Linked DNA regions of Homo sapiens. The protein of the gene in region 2 interacts with the protein of the main gene of each other region in a pairwise test. Each region holds a gene or a part of one and is shown on either strand. Other genes may lie near its edges.

Evidence for each region. The genes of interacting proteins can lie anywhere in the genome.
Region 1: the proteins of YIPF1 (region 2) and ZDHHC7 interact in binary tests that used the Homo sapiens proteins (3 or more experiments, as listed by UniProt).

The regions. Positions count from the first base shown.
Region 1 is NC_000016.10:85,008,736-85,012,968, forward strand, and holds the start of ZDHHC7 (palmitoyltransferase ZDHHC7), read right to left. Parts: upstream 2,801-4,233; 5' UTR 2,551-2,800; exon of another isoform or gene 2,371-2,550; intron 1-2,370.
Region 2 is NC_000001.11:53,879,798-53,883,297, forward strand, and holds part of YIPF1 (protein YIPF1), read right to left. Parts: intron 3,480-3,500; coding exon 3,316-3,479; intron 1-3,315.

The sequences.
Region 1 (4,233 bases), on a different chromosome or scaffold from region 2:
GCTCTAGGGTTTGAAGAAAAAAAAAAAGGGTCAGGCACAGTGGCTCACGCCTGTAATCCCACCATTCTGGGAGGCTGAGGCAGGCGGATCACCAGAGGTCAGGAGTTGGAGACCAGCCTGACCAACATGGAGAAATCCTGTCTCTACTAAAAATACAAAATTAGCCAGCCACGGTGGCTCAGGCCTGTAATCCCAGCTACTCGGGAGGCTGAGGCAGGAGAATCGCTTTAACCCAGGAGGTAGAGGCTGCAGGGAGCCAAGATCGAGCCACTGCACTCCAGCCTGGGCAACAAGAGCGAAACTCCGTCTCAAAAAAAAAAAAAAAGTACTTCTAAAGTTAAAATATTACAGAAACATACCCCAAAAAGCTGCTTTAGTAAAATTATCTTGTATAGTTGTCCAATCACGAAAACTATTCAATGTTCATCCCAAACATTAACTTTCTACATGAACTTATTTCTACACCCATTTTCTTTGTTAATTTAACAAAGATTGTATTATTTATATCAACAAAGCATCCAAGCCAGCAGGTAAGTTTCAGTAAGAATGTAAAAGTACGTTCATACTTTTGACTGAATCAAGATTGTTCTTATATAAAGTTCATTTCAGTGCTTTCTTTCTCACTGAGAGGGCCATTCTATTCATGCTAATACTCTTCTGTTCTTGAAGAGGATTTGTTTTTACAGTTCATTGATTAGCAGGGCTGTAAAGTTTCAATTCATTAATCTGTCAACTGAGGCAGGCTCTGAGCCAATGGTAGCAGAAGAGTTCCCATTGTTACTTAGCGAATCCTTTGGGAATTACCTTTTCAAATAGTCTTCTTCTCCTTCAACTCTCAAATCAGAAGCCAATGTGGGCCCCTAACCTATTTTCCAGAATGTTCAAGAATTGCAATTTAGTTAATATTTCAGTTCCATTCCATATTTCAAATATCCCAAGAGCCTTTCACTTTAACCAAGTTCTGACTTTTTTTCTTTTTTTTTTTTTTTTTGAGACGGAGTCTTGCTCTGTCGCCCAGACTGGAGTGCAGTGGCGCGATCTTGGCTCACTGCAAGCTCCGCCTCCCGGGTTCACGTGATTCTCTTGCCTTAGCCTCCCGAGTAGCTGGGACTACAGGCGCCCACCACCATGCCCAGCTAATTTTTGGTATTTTTAGTAGACATGGGGTTTCACCGTGTTAGCCAGGATGGTCTCGATCTCCCGACTTCGTGATCCGCCCGCCTCGGCCTCCCAAAGTGCTGGGATCACAGGCATGAGCCACTGTGCCTGGCCAAGTTCTGACTTTTAACAAGCGAATTTAACAAAGTGACTTTTTTTTTTTTTTTGAGATGGGGATCTCACTCTGTTGCCCAGGCTGCAGTGCTGTGGCATGATCTCAAACTCAAGTGATCCCCCCACCTCAGCCTCCCAAGCAGCTGAGACCTCAGGCGTGTACCACCATATCCGGCTAATTTTTTAATTTTTTTGTAGAGAAGGGGATCTCACTATGTTGCCCAGGCTGCTCTCCAACTCCTGGGCTCAAGTGATCCTCCTGCCTCAGCCTCCCAAAGCGCTGGGATTACAGGCATGAGCCACGAGCCACCGCGTGCGTACCAGGCCACAAAGTGACTAAAAGGTGATTTCAGGTATGTAAACACTGTAAAACATAACAAAAAAGAGATTCTTCATCTGTGAGATGAAGAGTTCAGAAAGAAATATTAATACACATTGACCTAAATCTCTAAACCCCTTGGGATAGTAACAGTAAAATAGATAAATACGTGCGCTTAAGTGCATACACTAAGCAGACTGAAAATGCAACACTGTAGCAGCGATTTGCCCAGCACTGTATACAGCCCAGACAGTAAAAGAAGCTACAAGGCAGGTAGCCGCATCAACACTGTCTCTTACACTCCAATTTAACGGCCACAATAAACTGGTTCTTCATAAGCTAATAAAGTGTGTCTATCTAACTGAGTGTGACAAAGTTGTAGAAGGAACCACACCAGGAGAGGTGAGCCTTACTGCCCTGAAAGCTTTACTGTCCCAGATGCCCTTTCAGGCAACTAACACCCAAAGATGACTGACGTGGAGCAGGAGGGAAGATAACTAGGAAGATGGGCAGAGAATAAAAGAGAAAAGTTTACAGCTTAAGAGGAAGAGAAGCCACAACGCGAAGTGCGAGACTGCTCATTGTAATACCTGCCTATTAAAAAACTCTTTACAGCTTACACAGGGTTTATAGCTGCTCTGTAACCACCACCCCGTCATTAGCCACACAGAAAACCAGGGCTCGGAGAGCTGAGTGTCACGCCCAAGGTCAGGCAAAAAGCTGGGGCTGCAATCCGGGCCCTATCCCGAGAGAGCAACTAAGGAATGACAAGGGGGCACCTGGAAGGGAAGTCAGGTGCGGGCACGGAGGTGCCCCTAGGAACTCCAGAAGGTCGCAGGTGTGCGGCGGGGTGGAGACAGAGCGGCGGAACCGACGGAAGGACAGGGCACGCCGGGGGCCAGAAGTGGCCGGGAGACCCGGGAGTGAGCAGCCCGCCCGGCCCAGCCCGCCGCACTCACCCGAGGCCCGGGCGGGGTCGCCCGGCGCTGCGGCTCCTCCCGGCCTGCGGCGGCGGCGGCGGCGACTGCAGCGGCCGAGGCAGGGACGCATCATGCGGCCGCGCTCATGGCCGGGCTGGAGCGGGCCCCGCGGCTCGGCTCGGCTTGGTCCCCTGGGTCCCGCCGGGCAGGTCGGAAGGAGGCTGCAGCCAAGCAAATGCCTCAGCCCGGAGCCTTGGCTGGAGAGCGGGGCGGTGCGAGCGCCGGAAGTGAACCCGACGAGGTCAGTGACGTCACGCCGGCGCAGTTCCGGCCGCGCAGCTCTCGCGGAGAGGGGCGCTCGAGGCGGTTTGAGGGGACCCGGAGGCTCTTACAAACTGGCAGTTCATTGAGAAAAGGCAGCTTTTAGTCACAGCCCCTCTCGCTAAGACAGAGATGCCGCCAAACTGAAGTCCGGAGGAGAAAGGATAGGGGCTACGGGCTGCAGCAGGGTCCAAGCCACGCCGTTAGGCTGCGGAACCGGGTTGGGAATGCCCTTAGCGGAGTGTGTACCCGCGCCCGCGGCGGTGTCTCAGAGGCAGCTCCAGTGGCCTGTACTATATGCGGGGATGTGACCGAAGGAAATGGGAAAGTAAGGGAGCGGGAGTGGAAATGGCTGAGCCAGAAAGCACTTGGGAAAAGAGGAAAGCGCCCTGAACTGGGGATTGGAGGCCTGACTCCTGAGGTCCGCGGAGCCCCCGGCCTCCTCCTTGAGGGACTTGGACACTAGAGCACCGCCACTGTCCCTTCCATATAGGAAGCCCTAAGTGTTTGAAAGTAGGAACATGTATTTTAAGGCCGGGCGCGGTGGCTCACGCCTGTAACTCCAGCACTTTGGGAAGCCAAGGCAGGCTGATCACTTGAGGTCAGGAGTTCGAGACCAGCCTGAACAACAATGGTGAAATTCCGTTTCTATTAAAAACACATAAATTAGCCGGATGTAGTGGTGCACGCCTGTAATCCCAGCAGCTACTCGAGAGGCTGAGGCAGGAGAATCATGAACCCAGGAGGCGAAGGTTGCAGTGAGCTGAGATCAAGCCACTGCACTCCAGCCTGGGCGACAGAGTGAACAGTCTCAAAAAAAAAAAAAAAGCATATCTTTTTTTTAAAATAAAATTATGACTCTCACACAAATATAAAATGAACATATGTCAAAGATACCATTTAACTCATTAATGATGGTATATATACAATGCTCCACTAGAGCTCTAGATAGCTTAAAGACAAAAGTAAGACCCCATAAGACGAGATAACCCAGAAGGGTATGCCAGACAATACCTACTTGTTCAATGAAGACACCTAAAGAAAACCAGAATAAGGCCAGGTGTGGTGGCTCACATCTGTAATCCCAGCACTTGTAGGAGGCCGAGGCAGGCAGATCACCTGAGGTCAGGAGTTCGAAACTATCCTGGTCAACGTGGCGAAACCCCATCTCTACTAAAAATACAAAAATTAGCCGGGTGCAGTTTTGGGCGCCTGTAATCTCAGCTACTCGGGAGGCTGAGGCAGGAGAAACCGCTTGAGAACCGGGAGGCAGAGGTTGCAGTGGGCCGAGATCGCGCCATTGCACTCCAACCTGGGTGACAGCGAGACTCCATCTCAATGAAAAAAGAAAAAGAAAAAACCAGAATATATCACCGCAAAATATGCCTCTTCGACAGAAAA
Region 2 (3,500 bases):
GAATGAATTCAGCACCTTCAACTGAAATACCCAGGTTCTTGCATTGGGACTGACTAGGCAAGTAGCTCGACCCACGGAGAATGAAGAAAAGCAGGGTGGGGCGATGGCTCACCCAGGAGCAGCACGGAGACAAAGGAACACCCATCCCCAACCAAGGAAAGCATTCCCCTTGAAAACCAGCACAAGACATGGATGCCCTCTCTTATCACTCCTATTCAATAGTATTAGAAGTTCTGGCCAGGGCAATCAGGGAAGAGAAACAAATAAAGGGTATTCAAATAGGAAGAGGGTATTCAAATAGGAAGAGAGTAAGTCAAATCACCTTTGTTTGCAAGATGACATGTTTCTATATCTAAAAAACCCCATCATCTCAGCCCAAAAGCTTCTTAAGCTGGTAAGCAACTTCAGCAAAGTCTCAGGATACAAAATCAATGTGCAAAAATTGTTAGTATTCCTATACACCGACAACAGGCAAGCAGAGGGCCAAATTATGAATGAACTCTCGTTCTTTTGTATGAATGAACTGCTACAAAAAGAATAAAATACCTAGGAACAAGGGAAGTAAAGGACCTCTTCAAAGAAAACTATAAACTACTGCTCAAAGAAATAAGAGAGGACACAAACAAATGGAAAAACATTCCATGCTCATAGTTAGGAAGAATCAGTATTGTGCAAATGGCATACTGCCCAAAGTAATTTATAGATTCAATGCCACTCCCAGTAAACTACCATTGACATTCTTCACGGAATTAGAAAAAAACTATTTTAAAATTCATATGGAATCAAAAGAGAGCCCAAATAGTCAAGACAATCCTAAGCAAAAAGAACAAAGCTGGAGGCATCATGCTACCTGACTTCAAACTAAACTACAAGTCTACAGTAACCAAAACAGCATGGTACTGGTACAAGAACAGACACATAGACCAATGAAACAGAACAGAGAACTCAGAAATAAGAATGCACGTCTACAACCATCTGATCTTCGAAAAACCTGACAAAAACAAGCAATGGGGAAAGGATTCCCTATTCAATAAATAGTGCTGGGAGAACTGGCTAGCCATATGCAGAAAACTGAAACTGGACCCCTTCCTTATACCATAAGCAAAAATTAACTCAAGGTGGATTAAAGACTTAAATGTAAAACACAAAACTAAAAAAACCCTAGAAGAGAATCTAGGGAATACCAGCTGGGCGCGGTGGCTCATGCCTGTAATCCCAGCACTTTGGGAGGCCAAGATGGGTGGATCATGAGGTAAGGAGTTCGAGACCAGCCTGGCCAATATGGTGAAACCCCGTCTCTACTAAAAATACAAAAATTAGTTGGGCATGGTGGCACGTGCCTGTAGTCCCAGCTGCTTGGGAGGCTGAGGCAGGAGAATCGCTTGAACCCAGGAGGCGGAGGTTGCAATGAGCCTCCAGCCTAGGCGACAAAGCAAGACTCCATCTCAAAAAAAAAAAAAAAAAGAAAAAGAAAGAAAATCTAGGGAATACCAATCAGGACATAGGCATGGGCAAAGATTTCATGATGAAAACACCAAAAGCAATTGCAACAAAAGCAAAAATTGACAAATGGGATCTAATTAAACTAAAGAGCTTCTGCACAGCAAAAGAAACTATCTTCAGAGTGAACAGACAACCTACAGAATGAGAGAAAATTTTTGCAATCTATCCATCTAACAAAGGTCTAATATCCAGAGTCTACAAAGTACTTAAGCAAATTTACAAGGAAAAAACAACTCCATTAAAAAGTGGGCAAGGGACATGAACAGACACTTCTCAAAAGACATACATGTGGCCAAAAAACATATGAAAGAAAGCTCAATATCTTGATTTGAGAAATGCAAATCAAAACCACAATGAGACACCATATCATGCCAGTCAGAATGGTGATTATTAAAAAGTCAAGAAACAACAGATGCTAGTGAAGTTGCGGAGAAAAAGGAATGCTTTTACACTGTTGGTGGGAGTGTAAATTAGTTCAACCATTGTGGAAGACAGTGTGGCGATTCCTCAAAGACCTAGAGGCAGAAATACTATTTGACCCAGCAATCCCATTACTGGGTATATACCCAGAGAAATATAAATCATTCTATTATAAAGATACATGCACATTTATGTTCACTGCAGCACTATTCACAATAGCAAAGATACGGAATCAACCTAAATGCCCATCAATGATAGACTGGATAAAGAAAATATGGTATATATACAACCATGGAATACTACGCAGCCAGAAAAAGGAATGAGATCATGTCCTTTGCAGGGACATGGATGGAGTTGGAAGCCATTATCCTTAGCAAACTAACACAGGAACAGAAAACCAAACACCACATCTTCTCACTTATAAGTGGGAGCTGAATGGTGAGAACACATGGACACATGGGAGGGGGAGCATCAGGAAGAAGAGCTAATGGATGCTGGGCTTAATACCTAGGTGATGGGGTGATCTGTGCAGCAAACCACTGTGGCACATGTTTACCTATGTAACAAACCTGTACCTCCTGCACATGACCCCTGAAGTTAAAATAAAAGTCGAAGAAAAAACATTAAAGAAAAACATTTTCACAATTAAAGTCGACAGTGGCAGCAACTGCCTTACATGGTGGTAAACAGCCCATTCCTGGAGGTACTCAAGCAAGTGTTTTCAATCTTTCCTTTTTTTTTTTTTCTTTCTTCTGGAGACAGGGTCTCACTCTGTTGCCGAGGCTGGAGTGTAGTGGTGCAATCTCAGCTCACTGCAACCTCTACTCCCCAAGCTCAAGCAATCCTCCCACCTTAGTTTCCCGAGTAGCTGGGGCTACAGGTGTCCACCACCATACTCGGCTAATATTTTGTACTTTTTGTAGAGGTGGAGTTTCACCATGTTGCCCAGGCTGGTCTCGAACTCCTGGGCTCAAGTGATCTGCCCGCCTCAGCCTCCCAAAATGCTGGGATTATATGCGTGAGCCACCACGCCTGGCTCCAAGTGTTATCTTTCCTACATAGCAAGGACAGCATCAATATCTCAGGAGAGAGGCTAAAACAGAGGGCCATGAAGGTTCTTTCCTACTCTAATATTAGAAAATATTGAGCATGGGAGTCCCACATTCCATAAGCTAGGATCTCTGCTCACTACCCCAGTGTTCCCCTCCACAAGTGTACTTACGGAAAGTAATGGTCTGTTTGCCTGTTTCCCCCACCAAGGAAGAGGCCATGTGTCATTTACCTCTGAGCTGTCATTGCCTGACACTGTACCTGGCACACAGTAGACAGTGAATAAGCACATAAACAAGCTTTAAAAATTGTTTAAAAAATATCTCAAAGACAAGTTCAAACCTCAGTTTTGTCAGAGTCATCATTTCCCAGTAACTCATCATCTTCTTCTCTTCCTGAGCCTCTTGGGGATCCTGGCTGATGTTTTGGGGTTTCACCAGGATCCTCAATGTTTACTGTGGTGGCATCTGGGTTTGCTGTCAGAGAAGTGGCTGCATTGCCAAATTCTGAAATCAATTAGAGCACAC